Linked DNA regions of Homo sapiens: regions 1, 2, 3, 4 and 5 are each reported to be linked to region 6. Evidence: microRNA targets listed by miRTarBase, many of them from high-throughput screens and not tested one by one. Region 6 holds a microRNA gene; each other region holds the end of a gene's coding sequence.
Evidence for each region. The annotated mature microRNA hsa-miR-1250-3p reads ACAUUUUCCAGCCCAUUCA and lies in region 6 at 1,042-1,060, opposite strand. An mRNA with a match to its seed (bases 2 to 7 or 8) in the 3' UTR can be bound and repressed. Matches are read on the target gene's strand: a 7mer-m8 pairs with bases 2 to 8, a 7mer-A1 pairs with bases 2 to 7 and ends in A, and an 8mer does both.

Region 1: miRTarBase lists ARSD as a target of hsa-miR-1250-3p. Seed matches in the 3' UTR shown: 8mer at 1,948-1,955, 7mer-A1 at 2,662-2,668 and 7mer-m8 at 2,843-2,849.
Region 2: miRTarBase lists SLC37A3 as a target of hsa-miR-1250-3p. Seed matches in the 3' UTR shown: 7mer-m8 at 729-735.
Region 3: miRTarBase lists PPM1A as a target of hsa-miR-1250-3p. The part of its 3' UTR that is shown has no 7-base or 8-base seed match.
Region 4: miRTarBase lists ZNF229 as a target of hsa-miR-1250-3p. Seed matches in the 3' UTR shown: 7mer-A1 at 2,126-2,132.
Region 5: miRTarBase lists PFKM as a target of hsa-miR-1250-3p. The part of its 3' UTR that is shown has no 7-base or 8-base seed match.

The regions. Positions count from the first base shown.
Region 1 is chrX:2,904,276-2,907,590 of GRCh38, reverse strand. ARSD (arylsulfatase D) reads left to right here. Exons shown (of 10, transcript NM_001669.4): 10 at 1-3,315. The coding sequence ends at 320. It overlaps ARSD-AS1 (ARSD antisense RNA 1), which reads right to left and starts at 2,687. Exons shown (of 2, transcript NR_144459.1): 1 at 2,386-2,687; 2 at 1,469-2,023.
Region 2 is chr7:140,332,407-140,335,788 of GRCh38, reverse strand. It overlaps SLC37A3 (solute carrier family 37 member 3), which reads left to right. Exons shown (of 15, transcript NM_207113.3): 15 at 285-2,037. The coding sequence ends at 377. Among named protein-coding and RNA genes, the nearest start is that of SLC37A3, 64 kb to the left of the region's middle.
Region 3 is chr14:60,292,138-60,295,519 of GRCh38, forward strand. It overlaps PPM1A (protein phosphatase, Mg2+/Mn2+ dependent 1A), which reads left to right. Exons shown (of 6, transcript NM_021003.5): 6 at 316-3,382. The coding sequence ends at 345. Among named protein-coding and RNA genes, the nearest start is that of LINC02322, 29 kb to the right of the region's middle.
Region 4 is chr19:44,425,384-44,428,765 of GRCh38, forward strand. It overlaps ZNF229 (zinc finger protein 229), which reads right to left. Exons shown (of 6, transcript NM_014518.4): 6 at 871-3,382. The coding sequence ends at 2,920. Among named protein-coding and RNA genes, the nearest start is that of ZNF229, 21 kb to the right of the region's middle.
Region 5 is chr12:48,145,379-48,148,378 of GRCh38, reverse strand. PFKM (phosphofructokinase, muscle) reads right to left here. Exons shown (of 23, transcript NM_000289.6): 23 at 1,975-2,815. The coding sequence ends at 2,671. ASB8 (ankyrin repeat and SOCS box containing 8) reads left to right here. Exons shown (of 4, transcript NM_024095.5): 4 at 1-590. Among named protein-coding and RNA genes, the nearest start is that of ASB8, 11 kb to the left of the region's middle.
Region 6 is chr17:81,132,187-81,135,568 of GRCh38, forward strand. It overlaps MIR1250 (microRNA 1250), which reads right to left and starts at 1,122; the gene lies at 1,010-1,122. AATK (apoptosis associated tyrosine kinase) reads right to left here. Exons shown (of 14, transcript NM_001080395.3): 2 at 2,182-2,315. It overlaps LOC124904079 (a long non-coding RNA gene), which reads left to right. Exons shown (of 4, transcript XR_007065937.1): 2 at 2,210-3,382.

The sequences.
Region 1 (3,315 bases), not on the chromosome of region 6:
ACCCCGAGGGAGCGGGGGCCTGCTACGGCCGAGGCGTCTGCCCATGCTCCGGGGAGGGCGTGACCCATCACAGACCCCCTTTGCTCTTTGACCTCTCCAGGGACCCCTCCGAGGCACGGCCCCTGACCCCCGACTCCGAGCCCCTGTACCACGCCGTGATAGCAAGGGTAGGTGCCGCGGTGTCGGAGCATCGGCAGACCCTGAGTCCTGTGCCCCAGCAGTTTTCCATGAGCAACATCCTGTGGAAGCCGTGGCTGCAGCCGTGCTGCGGACATTTCCCGTTCTGTTCATGCCACGAGGATGGGGATGGCACCCCCTGAATGCCAGGACTGTGAGAGAGGATCCAGGAGAGCCTGACTGCGTTGCAAACAAAATTCTCCAAGCTTGGTTCTATCTTCAGCTTCCCTTTTTGCAAGGAACATGCCCTGGACTGAGAGTGGGTCCCCACTTTCTTTCTTTCTTTCTTTCTTTTTTGAGACAGAGTGTCGCTCTGTCCCTCAGGCTGGAATGCAATGGCACGATCTCTGCTCACTGCAACCTCCGCCTCCCGGGTTCAAGCGATTTTCCTGCCTCAGCCTCCTGAGTACCCAGGATTACAGGCACCAGGCACCTGCCACCATGCCTAGCTAATTTTTGTAGTTTTAGTAGAGACAGGGTTTCACCATGTTGCCCAGGCTGGTCTCGCACTCCTGACCTCAAGTCATCCACCTGCCTCAGCCTCCCAAAGTGCTGGGATTACAGGCACGAGCCACTGCGCCCATGTAGGGTTTCCCTTTCCTGATTTGTGAAATAAGACTGTCCCAGTAGGCACCCACTGATGCCTCCTCTTCCTCTTCTAAATCTCAGGGTTCGTCATTGTGCCAATGCCCGATGTTTTCACCCCTCCGTCTTAAAGCATTGTTGCAATTTCATCACCTAGATGACATAACAGCCTTACAAAAGGACAGGGAGGAGTGTCTGTTCCTACTCTCACATAGCGGAGGAAAGTTAGAGCCTCTCAGTCTCTGTTTATGAGGACTCATTAATCTCAAATAATTGATGCATTTTTCATACATTAGGGTCTCTGTCCATGTGTCTTCCTGATATTGTTATAGAAATGGCTTCAGGCTGCTGGTAACAGATGCTGCGGAAAAAGAATGCCTTAAACAAAGCCAGGCACGGTGACTCACACCTGTAATCCCAGCACTTTGGGAGGCTAAGGTGGGAGGATCACTTGAGCCTAGGAGTTAGACACCTACCCAGCCTGAGCAACACAGTGAGACCTCATCTCTACAAAAAACAAATAATTAGCTAGATGTCGTGGCGCACAGCTGTAGTCTCAGCTACTTAGGAGGCTGAGGCGGGAGGATTATTTGAGCCTGGGAGGTCAAAACTGCAATGAGCTAAGATTGCACTACTGCACTCCGGGCTGGGAGACAGAGTAAGACCCTGCCTTAAAAAAAAAAAAAAAAAAATGCCTTAAAGAAAATAATAAGAGAAGGGTGTGTTCTCTTCCAAGTAATGAGCCGATCAAGGGGAAGCAACCCAAGGCTAGCAGGCTCTTTTCAATTCCCAGCTCTGCCACTCTTAGCATGGCAGAGAGTTGGCCTCATTATGCCAGTATGGCTGCCACAGTGTCAGACATCACATTCCAGGCAGTGGAAAGGAGAAAGAACCAAAGGGCATCCCTTTCTCTTGAAGCAGTCCCTGTGAGGGGGGATTATCTGGAAGCCCCAACCCAATTTCTGCTTCCAACCATTATCCATAGAAACAACTGGAAGTTGAGAAGTGCAGTCTTTTAGGTGGGCACCTGGCTGCCCTGTATGAAACCAGAATTAGGTTGGTCAGCAGGAAAACAAGAAAACACTTACTGTGTTGACTGAGGTTTTTGACGCATCGCTTTATTGTCAAATTAAACAACTCTATCTCATTCTGCACTGAAACACGTACTACCATTGCCTATAATTGGAAAATGATCCTCAGAGGCACAGAAGATGCCCTGATGGAAAGTTTGCCCCTTGGGCAAAGAGACAGCCATGGGAACCTTCAGACATAGAGAGAGAAGGTGGCTTTTCTCCCTACATTCCTCAAATAGCTAAGATTTGGCCAGTGTGTTTTCTAAGTCAATTCTAGTGTGTTTCATCCTCACCTCTTCCCTCTGTGGCTTTGATGATGGAAGTGTAGTCCTAACCTACTGCACAGCTGGGACCCCCTGCCCCTAGATCCCAATACTGGGGATGGGAGGACCTTGCACTATTCCCCTCAGTCCATCTATCGAGGTCTTTGCAGGAAGCATACTGGGAATTGAAACGAGAGCCTAAATGACATCTAAGAAAGGCAGTGTTCAATACCAGGTATTAGGTGAGGATGGGATTCTAAGGACATCAGTGGGAGGCAGGGAGCCACCTTCAGACCTCAGCATGGAAGCTTCCAAGATCCAGAGGAAGAGGCAACAGCACTGAGAGTCATAGGTAGAAGAATCATCACAGCCCTGCTAACCAGGCAGCTGATGCCCCTCTCCCCTGGCTCCCTGTGTCCAAATCCTACAGGGGCATCTGTTGGCTGAACTCAACCTGAAGCCAAAGAGAAGATGAGTGGAGAGAGGCAACATTTATAGAGCTCAGGTTTCTAGGGCTGGAGAGGGATCTGGAGGGACACACAGGAGACACCTGGCATAACCAAAAAATGATTAAAAAAAAAAAAAAAAAGAAACATCTATGGAGCATGGGACACGGGGAGTGGAGGCAGCTAAAAGCCATCTCATCTTTCACCGTATTCAACAAGCCCATTATAACAAGTCTTTCACGCTCAACCATTCAAACAATCCCAACAATCCCAGCCTAAGAATTTCCTGGCATTTGATGAAAATGGCTGTGGGTTTTGCTATCTTTAAGCTCCCTGGGAAGCAGGATATAAGCCCAGGGCTGGCAGGCTCTTTCTAGCTACCTGCTCTTGCACATAGAGTTTGCCTCATGGTTGCAAGAAGGCTGCCATAGCTCCAGATGGCACATAGACATTCCAGGCAGCAGGAAAAAGGAAGGAGCACTTAACCGAAGGAGGTCAGGGAGTTGGTTAGTCTCCACCTGAAGAAGAGAGCCATGAACCAGCTTCAGTTGACTAACGGGCTCCTGTGAGTGCATCTTTGGACTTTTCTGGAGGTTGAAATCTAGATGTGGTATGTGTCTTAAAGCAGCCACCAACTCCTCCCATTACCTTCCAAGTGAGCCCAACTACACGATGGAGCCTCTTCCCTGCCCTTGGATCTGGGCTGAGCCTCTGACTTGCGTTGACCAACAGAATGCAGTGAAAGTGATGCCGATACTACCCTCCCTGCCC
Region 2 (3,382 bases), not on the chromosome of region 6:
ATCACTGTTGTTCATCTGAGCCTCTGGTCTCAGTTCTCTGCTCCGCCTATGGCAAATTATTTGTATGTATTGTTCTTTTTTTGGGAACTGAAATGTGATGTTGAGTGTTTTGTAATATTAGCCATAATTTTCAAAATCATTTTCTAATTCATTGAAGATTAAACATTATCTTTGTATGAAGTCAAAATGAATGTAATTGTCCAAATCCATTATTATGTTCAAAACATGACACTCTAACAGAAGTAAACTGTTGCTGCATATTTAATACTATTTTCTCTTTACAGACAAGTTGTACAATTGTGTTTATCTCGCCATTAATAGTGAGGGAAATATTCTCTCTCGTGCTAAGGAGACAGGCTCACATATTGAGGGAGTGACCGGTGCCCGCGAGACAGAAAGAACAATGTCAGCCACATCAGGACCGCTGGGGCTTCGAGTCTGCCCTAATTTGGGTTTGTCTAGGAGCTCCAGCCTGATCTTGGATTGTCAGGCGTCTCTCAACACTGCCAGCCACCTGAGATGCTGACCAGCAGTGAAGGCTGCACTAGTTTTCTACACTACAGGAATTACTGTTGATGATTTTTGCTGTTGTTTCATGAATGTGCCGAGTGACTTCTGACTCTGCCAGCATCTTTGACCTCTGACTCTGCCCGCGTCTTTGTTTGGCCTATTGAGGTTTAGCGTTTTAACCTTAACTGTTGTTTTGGACTTGAACTTTCTCTAGCCTTGAAAATGGAGTGAACAGGAGGCAAAGCCACGCGTGGTTTGTGTTGGTGGTATGTTCCACAAATGGAAGAGATCATTGCATTTTGCTTTGGTAATGAGTTTACAGAGAGTGGGTCATCTTTGAAGCATCAAATCCTGATCAAATGCTCAAGCTGGACCGAGCTGCAAGCCTGCCTTGGACAAAGAATCCCTCTGTTCACTGTGGTGGGAAAGATCACACTACATGCCTGTTGATTGGCTCAGTCACTCTGTGTCTGATCTAAACGTCATTCAGCCCTAGAAGCATGAATTGCTTCAAATTATTGTCAACTTGTTCTCTTCCATTTTCATTCAAATTAACTTTGACTCCTGGAAGTATTGAGTCTTCCTTTCAAGGACCATAAGGTACATCAGTTATCTTGAACATTCTGACGTGTAAAGGACCATAAGGTACATCATTTATCTTGAACATTCCGACGTGTAACTCACAGCCGAAGCACTCCATCCCAGATTTGTTGTCTGGGAACTTAGGATCCTCTAGGAAGCTAATCTGCTTAGTCTATTTTTAGAGGATTGATCTCTGGCACAAGCAGCTTCCTGGAGTTACCTCAGCAGAAGACTAGAATTAGAGAAAAGGGAAAGACCTTTTCTTCTAGTAAGTGTCAAGTACAGATGCTCTTTGACTTATGATGGGGTTATGTCCCAGTAAACCCATTGGAAGTCAAATGCATTTAATACCCCTGACTGGACACCACAGCTTAGCCTCGTCCACCCTAAATGTACTCAGAACACTTAGAATTGCCCACAGTTGGGCAGAATCATCTAACACAAACTCTATTTTATAATCGAGTGTTGAATATATCATGTAATTTATTGAATATTGTACATTATGTTGAAATTGCAACCATTTCACACCATTGTAAAGTCCAAAAATCAGAAGCTGAGGACTGTCTGTACATGACATTGAATCACATGAATGGATTACTAGGGCCTGAGGGGTGTCCGTTCTTTAGAAAAATGTAGAGTATATATATCTTCAGGGCTGTGAATTCCATACTAGTTATCAATATTTTAAGATCATTCTGTATATACATATTTTAAATTATGCAAGCAAACTAGGAGGAGAATGTGCAATTTTGAGGGATACCTAATTTGCATTCGGTTAGGGGATATTTTTCAACCTCTTGCTTTATACTCTGATATGGGGTGTGTTTATGAACTTGTTAATGTTATTTAATCATGCAGATTTCCAATCAGTGTATTGCTCATTTACTGACAAAAAGGGAAAATACGAAACACAGAAAGGGAAAATAAACTGACTTTTATAATGAATCTCCATTTCGTTACTTAAATCTATATACCATGAGCACTGAGATTTAGAATGTGATCGGTGCCCTCATGTTTCCTGATACTGAGCGCTCCCGGGTGAGCCCACGCTGACCCACAGCATTGCTGGGTCACGTGCTCCCTCACCTGAGGTGCTGGGGTGGCTTCATTTCCATCTGTTCTGTGAAAACTTGCCCTTTCCCACTGTGGAAGACTGTGCTCGGTTTGGATGAATTGCCCGGTTGTAAGTTAAGGGCCGTCTGTTTTCTCATTGAACCTCTTGGCTGGCGTTTGGCTCAGAGTTTCCTTTCCGGCTGCACTGTGGGTGTGGTCTCATCTTTGTGTCCCCACGCCAGCCAATGTTTTCTTACCCAGTTGAACCTTAGATCGGTGACTGTTCCCCTGACCTTTCTATGGCCCCCGAGCTGTACTGAAATGAAACCATTTAAAAAAATTTTTTTGAGACAAAAGTCTCGCTCTGTCACCCACACTGGAGTACAGTGGCACGATCATGGCTCACTGCACCCTTGACCTCCTGAAGTCAAAAGCGATCCTCCCGCCTCAGCTCCCAAGGAGCTGGGACTAGCCTCCCAAGTAGATGGACCGTGCGCCACCATGCCTGGCTAATTATTTTTAGTCTTTTTATTTTCTGTAGAGACGAAGTCTCACTGTTACCCAGGCTGGTCTCAAACTCCTGGGCTGAAGCGATCCTCCCACCTTGGCCTCCCCAAGTACTGGGATAACAGGCATGAGCCACTGGGCCTGCGTAAAATGAAATTACAAATCAATGCTCAGCACTGGACAACATGAAATAAGGATATATTCCCTTATTCTAGTTCTGCCAGTCTGCACAGGATTTAACTTTTTTTTTTTTTTTTTTTTTGAGATGGAGTCTCACTCTTGCCCAGGCTGGAGTGCACTGGTGCAATCTTGGCTCACTGCAACCTCCACCTCCCGGGTTCAAGCGATTCTCCTGCCTCAGCCTCCCAAGTAGCTGGGACTACTACGGGCACACGCCACCACGCCCAGCTAATTTTTGTATTTTTAGTAGAGATGGGGCTTCGCCATGTTGACCAGTCTGGTCTGTAACTCCTCAAGTGATCCACCTGCCTTGGTCTCCCAAATTGCTGGGATTACAGATGTGAGCCACCGTGCCCAGCCAGGATTTAACTTTGATGAACATCTAAGAGTTCACTTTATTTTCTTCTTAATATCTTCTCCCTTGAGAAGGGAAGAGAAAACCATAGTGAAAGCTAATTTGAAAATGCATCCTTTCCTCACAGCCAGATCGTCGATGCTCGCTAGGTTGAAATAAAATGCTGCGGTCTGCCTTTTCTTTTCAGAAGGTGGT
Region 3 (3,382 bases), not on the chromosome of region 6:
TCTAAAACTGTATTGGATTTCATTAAAAAATTCTTTTTAGTAGATTTATTGATTGAGTAATACATTTGGACAGCCTCATCATAAAACCGCATTTCAAATATTTTCCAAAACAAAACAAAGGATTAACAATTCTTTGAACAGATTAAACATTGCTATTTCATATGTACACATATATACTTATATACTTTAAAAAACATTTATATTCTAAAAGTCATCTTTACAGAACATTATCTTTCTCCATTATCCAGAAAGTATGGTGTATTTTGGCACCGCTAAATTTTAACGTTGTTCCTTATTTTGCTTCCTTTTACAAAGGACTCTACATCAACAGATGATATGTGGTAAAACTGCTCATCTAGCCATGGAGTTTACCTTCACCTCCAAAGGAGAGTACAGCTCAACTTTGTTGAAACTTTTAACATCCATCCTCAACTTTAAGGAAGGGGATATGACATGGGTGAGAATGATTACATCAGAGAACTTCAGCAGTACAACAGCTAGCCCAGAACTGATTTTTTTTTTTTTTTTTGTAAATTTGAGACTTATGTAAGCGTGATTTCAAACCATAATTCGTGTTGTAAATCAGACTCCAGCAATTTTTGTTGTATGATTTTGTTTTTTTGTAAAGTGTAATTGTCCTTGTACAAAATGCTCATATTTAATTATGAACTGCTTTAAATCACTATCAAAGTTACAAGAAATGTTTGGCTTATTGTGTGATGCAACAGATATATAGCCCTTTCAAGTCATGTTGTGTTTGGACTTGGGGTTGGAACAGGGAGAGCAGCAGCCATGTCAGCTACACGCTCAAATGTGCAGATGATTATGGAAAATAACCTCAAAATCTTACAAAGCTGAACATCCAAGGAGTTATTGAAAACTATCTTAAATGTTCTTGGTAGGGGAGTTGGCATTGTTGATAAAGCCAGTCCCTTCATTTAACTGTCTTTCAGGATGTTCCTTCGTTGTTTCCATGAGTATTGCAGGTAATAATACAGTGTATTCATAAGAATCTCAATCTTGGGGCTAAATGCCTTGTTTCTTTGCACCTCTTTTCAAGTCCTTACATTTAATTACTAATTGATAAGCAGCAGCTTCCTACATATAGTAGGAAACTGCCACATTTTTGCTATCATGATTGGCTGGGCCTGCTGCTGTTCCTAGTAAGATATTCTGAATTCCATTTTATCAATAAAGCTTGATTTAACAAACAAGAAACTTAATCATGTATGTGTAATTCCTCTTTTACCCTGGCCTTTTAAAACACTGTGCCGTTGTAATGAGACGTTTCTCATAGGGAAAGATGTTAGTCTCTTTTAATTGGACAACACTGTCACTCAAGGCATAGATGAAACTTTCCTTCCATTAGAAAGACTAAAAGATTTAATTCTTGGTTGTACCTTAATCTATTTTTTAAATAGGTTTCTTTCAGGCTGCTTATTTTTCATTAAGATGTGTATCAGCTTGGATTTGCCTACTGTTTAATTAAAATATTTATTGTCAAAGTTTGACAATCTAACACTCTATGGTAGGGGTGTGTGTGTGTGTGTTTGTGAGTGTGTGTTTGCCTGTGATTTTTAATTGGCCCATGTCTTTAGAATCCAAGTGGTTAAGATGTATTTGTGATTTGAAATATAGCATGTTGATAATATTTAGCTGTTGGCCTTTACAAATAACTTTCAAAGCTTAAGGAATTGTAGATATAAAAATAACCTAATTTAATTTAGGCTTAAATTCCTCTGATTAAGCATGTGAAAGTAAGTTTTAAAATCTGTCGCATTGAAAAGATTACTGTTCCGTGCCCTTCTGTATTTTTGTCTCTTTAGGTTGAATATTGTATTTATCACCATGTAATCATTCAGTAGGCAGATTCCCACTAGAAAACTGTTGAAATGTAAGACTAAAATACAACATTGAATACAAAATCAAAATTTTGTGTATAAAAACCAGTATAGTCCATTTTGTTATATTTGTTTTTTCCCTAACTTGGAAATATACATATTTGTATATATAGCCTTAAAATTAATGTAAAGTTAGGGGAGTAGTGGGGAAAGTAATGTGAAATGTCTCAGATTTAAGTAGTTAAATACCAGCAAAATCTTTTCATTATCCCTCTTATTTTGTGAGGTGATTAAATGTAACTTAATTGTATTTAATTTATATCTTATTCCAGCATGAATGAGGAAAAACTGAAGTACTATTTATATTTAGAAATTCATATCAGTTGAAATTACAGAACCAATTCCATACTTACAATAAATACTTAATGTCTAAATCTGTGGTAGAGTGCGAAGTATGATAATGTTCTAAGTTATGGCTTTGCAAGCATCTAAATGTGCATTTAATGAATACCAGTGCTTCTAGTATAGACTAATTACCAGACATACTGGTACTGAAAGCTAAATCCCTATTATAACAAACCAGTTCCTTAATATTTTAAGTAGACTGACAACTTTAGTTCCAGAAATTGCAAAACTTTGAACTGGACTGTGTAATCTTTTGAGATGCAAAACTTAAGTCACAAGTAGAGTATGTGATGGAAAGCTGTATTTCAAACCATAACAGCATATTTAGAGCCTTTTTTTTTTGAGTCTTTAAACAAGAGAAAATTAAAATATTCCTGTCAAAATTATTAGTATTGAAATTAGGCTTGGACACGAGAGAGAACCGTATTTGAGTGATGTGAGAAGACTAAATCTTTTCCACATGAGTCAGCACTGCCATACTAATAATTTTTTTACTATAAAAATACAGGAAGGAAGTATACATTATAACAGCAGACTGTGTGTGTTCCTGATTCCTGGAGGTAATAGTGGGGGGAAACCAACCATACTTTTTAAAGGCACTTTTGCACCTCTATTGTGCACTTCATTCTTGTACCACTTAAATTCTTCACCCCCATCCCCTTTTTTTGTGCTAATTAGCATCTCAGGGCAATGCCTCAAAAATGTTTGATGTGTTCTGTTCTTTGGAGGGAAAAAGTTCTTATGTGATGATAATATAGTACTCAAAATATACTTTTATCATTTAAATGTCTTATTTGCTGCTATGAATAGGAAATAACATTTTGTATAGCAGGCTCTGTTTTACCCTAACATTAAAAAATTTCACTGATCTTTCTTTCATTAACAGGGTAGAATCTCCTAATTTCCACTTTCTTGGGAATATACTTTTATAGACAATAGAAGCAGTTCTCAATATTAGCATATACTTTAAAAAATCAAAGTGATAACTTAATTCAGCTTTGGAAGTATCTCAAACATATTTTTACTTTATAGTGCATTAACTTGCTTCTAGAGTACTTAATGCAACTGCTCTAGCCACTTAATTTTTTATACTAATCTCAACATTAAGAAATTTGGATTAAGTAATAAATTAGTTA
Region 4 (3,382 bases), not on the chromosome of region 6:
TGATGGTGACTTAAGAGACTGGGTCATAAAAGGCACCCTGGCTTCTGGCTTGCTCTCTCCTTTCTGATTACTTACTCGGGGGGATGTCAGTTGCTACAAGATGAAGGCCTTTAGCCCTGGGAGGCCCACAAGGTGAGAAACTGAGACCTCTATTAACAGCCAGCAAGGAACTGAAGGCTCCTGCCTGAAGTGATCTTGGGAGCAGACCTTGTAGGCCCCAGTCCAGCATTCAGATGACTGCAGCCCCTGCCAACATTTGACAGCTGCCTCCACAACACTGGGGGAGATACTGCCCAGAATTTGAGGAGTCTGCTGACAACCTCTGGGAATACAGAATGAGTTAAACTTTTCAGCCACAAACTTTGAGGTCTGAGGGGTGTCTGCATTTGTTCTGTTGGCCATAAAACCCTACATCCCAAGTGACTCTGCTGCAGTTCCATAAATTACTTTTCATCCCTACCCCTTGCCCCCTTCTGAAACCTTATTTCCCACGGTAAATACTTTGGTTATCTATATATAAAGTGCCTGTTCCCCACCTCTTGACATGTCTTCTCTCTTTGGCAGCTCCAGGCAGCAGAAGGCTCAGACCAGAGCAGACCCAGGTCTCCTGAGTCACCAAGACAGAGAGCTTATCCTGGAGGAACACATGATGGTGTGCTGCCCTCTACAAAACCAGGCTTGTGGGCTCACTAGTTCAAGAAGGCAGGACTGAAAAATGGAAACACCGTGGCTCCTAATTATCTAGACTGCCTCATCTCCTACCAGCCAGCAAAAATGATGTAGCCTCTGAGAATATTTACATCACTCATTTGTATGCCTTATCTTTGGTACAGGGAGTTGGGTGAACAGGAGAAAAAGCCAAAAAAGTTATAGAGGTTACAACATGAATCTTTAATCATAAGGGATTGTTCCATCAGGCTAATTTATAAAAAATAGCTCTACTGTTATTATAAAACTGAAAGATACTTTGTTACAAAGTAAAATACATAAAAGTACAACATATGTATTATACATTCAGAATCCCACCACTAGAGATAAGTAGTTATATGTCCTCTCCCACATCTTTTTTTCTCTGTTGCTCTAAACATACACACAGAAAAACATACTAACAAAATGGGGTCATGCTATAATTGTTGTTCTAAAACTCTCCTGGTTCACTAAATACTTCATGAGCAACCTGCATTGTCATTATCTGTGTGCCTGAAGATTTCTAGTGGCTTTCCATTGCATACATATGCCTGAACTTATCTAAAAAATTTCCTACCAATGGAAACTGGAATATTAACATTTGCTATTTTAAAAATGTTTTAAATTTAAAAACTCCACCTTCTGCATGCGTTTTTGCCCAAGTGGGCAACTATCTCCCAAGTATCAATTACTACATATTTACTGCCACTTCAAAGGTTATAGAAATTGAATTGATACGTTAATGAATTCTTTTGAAAACAATGCACGGATTTTCTCTCTCACCAATAAGTACATAAGACTTATTACGTCCATTTTTGCACTGCTATAAAGAACTACCTGAGACTAGGTAATTTGCAAAGGAAAGAGGTTTAACTCACACACAGTTCCACATGGCTGGGGAGGCCTCCGAAAACTTAGTCATGGCAGAACGCAAAAGAGAAATAAGGACCTTCTTCACAAGGGGACAGGAGAGAGACAGCGAGGAAGGGCTACACCTTAAAACCATCAGCTCTCATGAGAACTCACTATCATGAGAACAGCAAGGGAGAAATCTGCCCTCGTGATCCAATCATCTCCCACCAAGGCCCTCCTCTGACACGTGGGGATTAAAATTGAGATGAGATTTGGGTGGGGACAAGAGCCAAACCATATCAGACTGTTTCTACAACCCCCCCCCCCGCCCCCACTGATGGGGGATTTGATGATTCTATTTTAATACTGCTAACCTGCAGGGTGAAATAGCATTTGTGATTTTTAAGATACCTAATATTTGATATGTTAAACTATGAAATGAACTGGAGCAAAACCATTATATTCATGACAGCAATAAAACAAATTCCTAGAAATATGCTTAAGATGACTCAGAACCTATTTTTAACCATCTCTAAGAAATATTACTGAGGGACCATATGAAATACTATCAGTGGTAAAAAAAAAGTCATTTTTTTAAAGTGAAAAAAAATCAGCATTTCAAAGACGCCACATTCTTTCAAAATTAACCTATAAATTCAATGCAATGCCAATTAATAAATTTATTTAATTAATAATTCAATGCAATGCCAATCAGATTTTGCTTTTTGAACCTGGAAAGAAGACATATTTCTGTAGTGTACTACAACTCCTCTGAAAGCTGTAAAGCTTACCTGCAAGATAAAACAGTCATAAAAACATGATAAAAATGTGAGACACACACATCACCCAGATCTGCCAAGAGAACTTTGTTCCTGGTCTTCTCAGAGTGACTTGTTTCAATAAATGTTAATGTTATCTTTTTGTTTTTATAAAGCGATCTTTAAAAAGATATGTACCAAACTGGTTTTAGAAAGGTGGAAACTTGTTTCTACACTGTCCCATTGGTAGCTATCAACCCACACAAAGAATCTATGTCCATAATTAGCACCTTGGAAACATTCTCACCACTTGTACATTGTAAAAGCTCCCTCCCAGGCAGATTCTGATGGAAGTGAGGATTATTACTGAAACCACTGCTGCACTGTTTCTTTAAAGCCTACTCCGCTGCACAACAGACTCTTAAAGACTGAAGTTTGTAACTGAAGTGCTAACCTATTTATCACACATCCAGGTGTTCCCTTCCTATGCAGACTAGAAAATGTAAAATCATCAGTTTCTCCTATAGCCCTCCTACATGTCACTTTCCTATGGTTTTTCTCCTGTGTTGGCTCTCAGATGGATAGAAAGCTCTGAGTCCCAGATGGAATCCTCTATGTACATCTACTTATAAGGGTTCTCGCCTAAATGCACTCTTTGGTGGTTCCGCAGACCTGAGGTATAACTGAAGCCTTTCCCACACACACCACACGTATAGGGCTTCTCTCCAGTGTGGACTCTCTGATGAACATGAAGACAGGAGTTGCGGCCAAAGCCCTTCCCACACTCCTCACATTTATAGGGTTTCTCACCAGTGTGGACCCTCTGATGACCTTGAAGATGTGAGCTCTGACTATAGCCCTTCCCACACACGTGGCATCTGTATGGCTTCTCGCCAGTGTGCACTCTCTTATGACTAAGGAGACCTGAGCCATATCTGAAACCCTTCCCACATTCACAACAAGTGTAGGGTTTCTCTCCTGTGTGCAACCTCTGGTGGGTGCGAAGATTAGAGCCATAACTGAATCCCTTGCCACACTGATCACACGTATAGGGCTTTTTTCCCGTGTGGACTCGCTGATGTTTG
Region 5 (3,000 bases), not on the chromosome of region 6:
CTGAAATAACAGTCCTAAGAACTCCTAAAGTCCTGAGAACTTTTCTTGTAATGCAGCTTTTTCTCTTCCTGAGAAACAGTGTGTTCTAATGGGATTCCCAGGCAGTTCCTACACCTACGGTGTGTGTTCCAGCAGGGAGGAGTTATGGGCTGGGCTGCCTTTTCCCATGGGTCTTCATTCCCAATGGAAAGTTCACTCTGCTTAGTTTGGAATTATTTTTCTTTCAGTTGTTCTGGAACCTTTGCTTTTTATTGATTTATACAATACAATTGGTGGGAGGGTGGACTTGGGATGGGAGTGGGAAAAGCATGTAAGAGCTCCTTTTGTGATGGTCCATCTACCCAAAAGAGATCTGCTTTAGTGAACGATACTCTTTCATTTTTCTAAATTAGATCAAGTTGTTATTGATTTTAGATGACTTGTATGCAAATTTGAAAAACTTTTTTTTTTAAAGCTGATTGGGAACTACAAACAATGAATGGAATCTACTGACACAGCTAATTGGAAAACAGATGTCTTCTTCTGTCCTATTGATGCTGGTGTTTAAAAAACATCACTTAAAAAAAAAGAATAAATAGTTCTAAAAGCAAGTTTGGCAATTTCTACTTTTCCTACTTTTCTCCAACCCCCCTTAGAAAAAGTTCTTCGTTTACTGCCTGGCTGTTCTATGTAACTTTCCATCCCAACCTTTCTCCCATTAGCAGCAGTGATTCTGGGCATTGCTGGAGTGAACAGGAGGGCTTGGGCAGAGTATCTGAAGAGCTTCCCCTTCCTTTATACCTTCTCCCACCCCAAATTTGGAATTACTGCTTTTATGTTCTCAACTCCAGCTGCACATAAAATCACTAAGGAAGCTTTTTAAAAACACTGGTGCCAAGATTTCACCTCATACCAATTCTTTGGAATTTTCTGGGGTAGGACTGGGGGCTTCAGTGCTTCAAATATAGCCAGGAATGAGATTCCACTGTGTTAGTCAGTGGTTCTCAATCCTAGTTATTAATTAGAACCACCTAGGAAAATTTTTAAAAATACTAAAGCCCAGGCTCCACCCCCAGAGATTGATTTAATTGGTCCAAAGCAGACCTAGTAGGGCTGGCCACAGTGGCTCACGCCTGTAATCCTCACACTTTAGGAGGCCGAGGTGGGAGGATCATTTGAGACCAGGAGTTGAAGTCCCCATCTCTACAAAAAAATAAATGAATAAAGTAGACCTGGGCATGAGTACGTTCAAAGGTCCCAGGTGATTCTAATATTCTGGTAGATTTATAAACTGCTTGAGATGCTACTTCATTTCTCATCATAGATACTTAATATTCTAGAAAGAGAAAGTTTTGTCCATGTGGGAAAAAATGTTACCTGTTTCTCAGTTACTTCATAATCACTTATGTGGTTGGTGGCTAATAAATTCTGCTTCACCTCCACTTAAGAGTTCAAACACAATTTCACTTATCTTTTTAGCTCTGGGGAAATAGCATGCACCTTCATAGGTTTTTTTTGTTTGTTTTTAAGTGGTCTTCACTATGCCTTTTTTTCCCAGATCGTATCATCATCCTAAATTTTTTACTCTTTACAGAGTGACATTTTCCCTCTGATTAACTTTCCCTGAGCCATCCTTCCCTCTTCATTTTCTTGAGGAAACAGCTCTAAGATTAAAGACAGGAAAGAGACAGAGAACCTATAAATCAATGGCAATTAGCATTTAAAATGTTCTGAATGAATGCCTGAACCTTCCCTTTCACTTTGTTTTCATAGGCCTTATGGCTCTGGGGATTTGATATGGCATGATAAGGAAGCAGGAATGGGGAATGAGGATGAGGTTTGAAGTCAGAACTGAGTTTGAGTTCTACTTGAATAATATTGAAGGAGACATTATGTAATCAATCACCTTGAGCTCCAGTGTCCTCCTTTCTGAAGTCAGGCTGTCACCATTGCCCTCCAAAAGCTACTATGAGGATTCAATGATGAAATGCCTACCACAGTGCTTGATATTTATTGTTAATTTCTCTTCCCACTAAAGAACTGTGCAAAGAGTATTTGGCTGCCTTATTCCCTGACTCCAGCAACAAACCTTCTCAGTCACTATTTAGAACTGTTTTTAGAGTTTGGCAGTGACAATTTTTCAGACAGCCAGCAAGTAGTGTACTAGAGATAATCCCTTCCTCCACCCCCTGTGATACCCTTAACGTCTTTACTGCTTCATCAGACAAGTGTCTGATACATGGGGCTGACAGTATTACATTCCACTTAGGAAGATGATAACAGGAGAAGCAAAAGCACAGTGACCAGTTGGCATTTATTAGTGTAGTTACAATTTGTCACTGTAGTAAAAGTAGTAGAGGAACCAAGACTCTTTGTTATCACAAAGAAATAAATAAAGCTTATTTTTAGGAAAATTCTAACTGAGTAAGTGATATCTAGCAGTAGCACTAGAGGTGCCCAGCCTTGTGTGACAGATAAAGCTGGGGCAGAAGTCATGTTAAATTCTACCTAAAAGGAGCTCCCACCCACTGCCTGCTCCTCCAGCTCCTGGCCAGAACTGGTCATGGCTGCAAGGTACAGAATAAAAGGAAACCTAATGAAAAAAACAGCTAAAACACTGAGAAGATGTGGACTTATTAGGGTGTGAGCTGACCATGATCAGGTAATCTATTCCCCTCACTCCAGAGAGGTTTAGACGGCAGCTTCCCCGGACCGCTTCCGGGTGATGTGCTCCAGGTGGGCATGGTCTGAAGTGTCCAAGTCAATCTCGTACTTGGCTAGGATTTTGAGGATGGGCCTCAGTTTCAGCCACCACTGTTCCTTGGGGATTCGATGCCTACAGAGGAATGAGGTAGATGATGATATAATCTTTTAGCACCCCAATCAACTTCTACCAAAGGTTTATAGGAAGAAGTTAGACAGAAGAGGTTAGATTTAGGACATGTGCATCACATCTGAAATGGGTAAGAATACAGGTGTTACTCCTTAAAAAAAAAAAAGAATTAAAGACAGTGAACAGGT
Region 6 (3,382 bases):
GGTACAGCCTTTCTGTCCTTCCTCACAACCCCCAGTGCCCTGGTGGGGAAGCTGAGGCTCAGAGGAGTCAAGGGACTTCCAGCTGGATGCTGGCCAGCACCCGGGCTGGTGAGTCCGAGGACAGGCAGGTGCAGTGGGAGGGGAGGCCTGGGCTCCTCAAGTACGACGTGTGACCCTGGGGACGCCTCCCTTCCCTGGGCTGCAAAGAGAGGGGCAGGTGGCTCTGTCGGTATTCCCGCAGGCCAGGCCCAGCCTGCCCTTTCGGAGCACACAGCCACTCAGGGATGGGGGACGCAGGTGCTGCGTGGGCAACTTCCCCTCCCCGGGACCCAGAAGACCACCCCAGAAGCCCCCTCTTGGGCCCTCCAATCCCAGCCCCGGCCTGGCCCCACCCATCTGGGCTTTGTAGAGGGGCCCAGGACACAGATGCTGTCTCTCCCTGGGGTCGGGCCCGGGCTCCAGGCATTACCTGCTGCCCGGGGGCCAGCCGGGTCCTGCCGATACAGCGTGCAATCAGGTAGCACAGGGTCAGCATTGGGGGCCTGCCCAGCCCCTTCCCTCAGCACAGCTCCCCACCAGGGAGCCCAGCGCAGGTCCCCAAATCCCAGGAGGGAGCCCAGTGTGGAGGCAGGACTTCCCAGGGGCACACTGGTGCTGGAATGTTCCGGGCACCATGTTCCCAAGGAGGTGAGGAGGGCGCAGGAGGAGGAGCTATGGCCAGCCCTTGTTTGGGGCCTTGTTCTTACAGTGCCCCAAGGAGGGGCCACTTATACAATAGCCCCACTCGTCCCACCCAGGCCCCACCTCCACTCCTGCTCCCGCCAAGACCTTGAGGCTCTGGCCTCGGGATCCCCAGGAAGGCGCCTGCGCGGCCTGGCCTGGCCCCTGGTGCCAGCGGGTCAGGGGTACATCCCAGAGCAGGGTGGGGGCTCTGGGCAGGAGTGCAGACCCCACAGCCTGGGGCCACAGCTTTGCCCCCCAGGCACGCAGCTCCTCACTGGTTGATGGGGCCTGTGGCCACTTCAGAGGGCTCTGGAAGGTTGAATGGGCTGGAAAATGTGGCCTTTAGAAAAGGCAAAAAGGCCACATCCAGCACCGTCACCTGCCAGGCCAGCGGGACAGGTGGGCAGAGCCAGCTCCTTGGCCCATTCTGCGTCATGACATACCAGGGGCAGGGAGGACTCTGGGACTGTCTCCCAAATGGGGGTGGCGCCAGCTGAGTCATGGGTCACTTAGTAGGAAGGCACCCTGAGATACAGACAGGGTGCTGTGCGCGCTGCAGAATGCCTCCTCCCACCCTCCTCCCTCCCTGACTTCTCCTGGCGTAGGAATCTGACCTCTGGCCCAGGGGTGGGGCTGACCCCCGTGGGCGTGTGAACCACCAGAGGTCCAGGCCAGGGTGTCATTTGCTCATCAGCAGGAATGGGACCCATGGAGACTCTGGGAGGGGGAGGCGATGCTGGCCGGGGTTCCTTCTGCCTGGCCCTCCCTGCTGCTCAGAGTTACAGCTGGAGGTGGGCTGGGGGTTTGCAGGGGGAGGAGCAGTGCTTGGCACCTGTCCTTGGCCAGGGGCCTTGGCCTCCAGAGGGGCAGCCTAGTGAGGCCAGGCCTCACCCTTGGCGGGGCTCCCTAACCAGCAGGCTGGGCTCTAGCATCACACATCGTCCCCTCCAGAAGGCAGAAGATACCCCGCGCAAGGTGACTCCAACTGGCAAGAAGGTCCCTGTGCCGGGAAGCTTGTCTGGGCAGCCCGGACTCCCCTTTGCAGATTGAATTCGGAGGGACGTGAGAGCCCCTTGCAGAGGCAGCTCCTCCACCAGGAGTCGGGCCTCTAGGGAGGCAAGCCCCCTCCCACACCAGCTCCAGAGCCCCCGACGCCCCCTGCAAGGCTGTCCTCAGCCTCCGTGAGTGCTCGGGCCCAACCCCAGGCTGGAGTGGGAGCGTCAGACCACGCCCCCCACAGAGGGCCTCAAAGTCGAGGAAGCTGGGGCAGGTCCCTGAGGAGGAGCTATGGAGTCCCTGGGCCAGGGTCCACGTGGTCCCCAGGTGGCCCCACAGCAACTACGGCCACCCAGCAGCCACCTTGATGGCCCCAGGAAGGAGGGAAGCTCAGGGTCAAGTGGACGCTACAGGCCTTGCCTGCGGGATCCCACGACAGCTCCCGCGGCCCCCAGGCCTCACCTTGAACCCGATACCGCCCTTCTTACAGCACAGGCAGGCCAGCATGAGGACGATGACGGCGAAGAGCCCGGAGAAAGACACAGCCACCACGGCGAGGGAGGATGGCCAGGACAGCTCGCTGAGCGGGGCGCCGTCTGCGGGAGAGCAGTGTGGTGAGAGTGGCCATGGCTGAGGGCCGGCCAGGCCCCTGCCCCTGCTCTGGGCTCCACAGCCCCACCTGGACTTGCTGCATTCCAGGCTGGGCCTCAGCACCCTGACCTCTCACCCCAGACCCCACACCTCACAGTGTGGCGAGGAGGTGGCCAGAGCCTGCAGTCCTGCAGCCAGCCACTGGACACCACCCTGGCTTCGCCAGGGGGACATAGGGTTGGCAGAGTGACCAGAGCCTGCCCAGTTCCCAATTCTGGGGTTCAGATACCCCTGAGAGGTCAGGGTCTCAGGGGCTACAGGGGGACCCCCATCTCCCTCCCAGATCCCAGTCACCCCACCTTGCCCCTCTGGGGCTGGGAAGGGAACATGGACTCTGTCAAACACGGGAGACCATGTTGCTGGCTGCTATCTGCTGGCCACACACCAGGCTCTGGACAGCGGGGGCTCAAGGCCCTTCCAGCCTCTGAGGTGCGGGGACCTCACTGTCCCTGAGAAGGTGGTGCTGCCTCTGCCAGGCAGCAGGGCTCCCGTGTGCCACCTGCTGCCTCGAATCCGTCCCCTTGCCAAACCCACTGCCAGGCCCCTCTGGTGCTGCTTCTGTCCTGGGAACCATGGGGAAACCCCGTTCTGCAGCTGCTGGTCCATGGAGCCCCTCATCCCAGAGGGGAACTGACAGTACAGCATCCCTCCCAACTTCGGAGTATTGAGCTGAGCCCGGCTTCCAAATCAGGACACCTGAGCTGAGCCAGGCTTTGAGGAAGCTCGGTCCATCTGCTGCCCACAGGATGGCATGGTGGGGGCCAGCCTTGGTGTCCCCTGGGCAGGGGAGGGCACACTGACCCGCTGGCTCTATCCCCTGGGCCTGCCCCGTCCCACCGCACCCAGCTCCAATCCATGCCCTTCCCTAGGAGCTTTCTGTCCGGCTGCCCTCCACTTGGCCCTGGAGATTTTCCGGCCACCCCCAGTGCCTTTTGCCACTGAGCACCTGCAACTTCTCAGCTCCCAACACCCCTCAACACCCCATCTCCTGGCCCAGCACACCCCCAAAGGT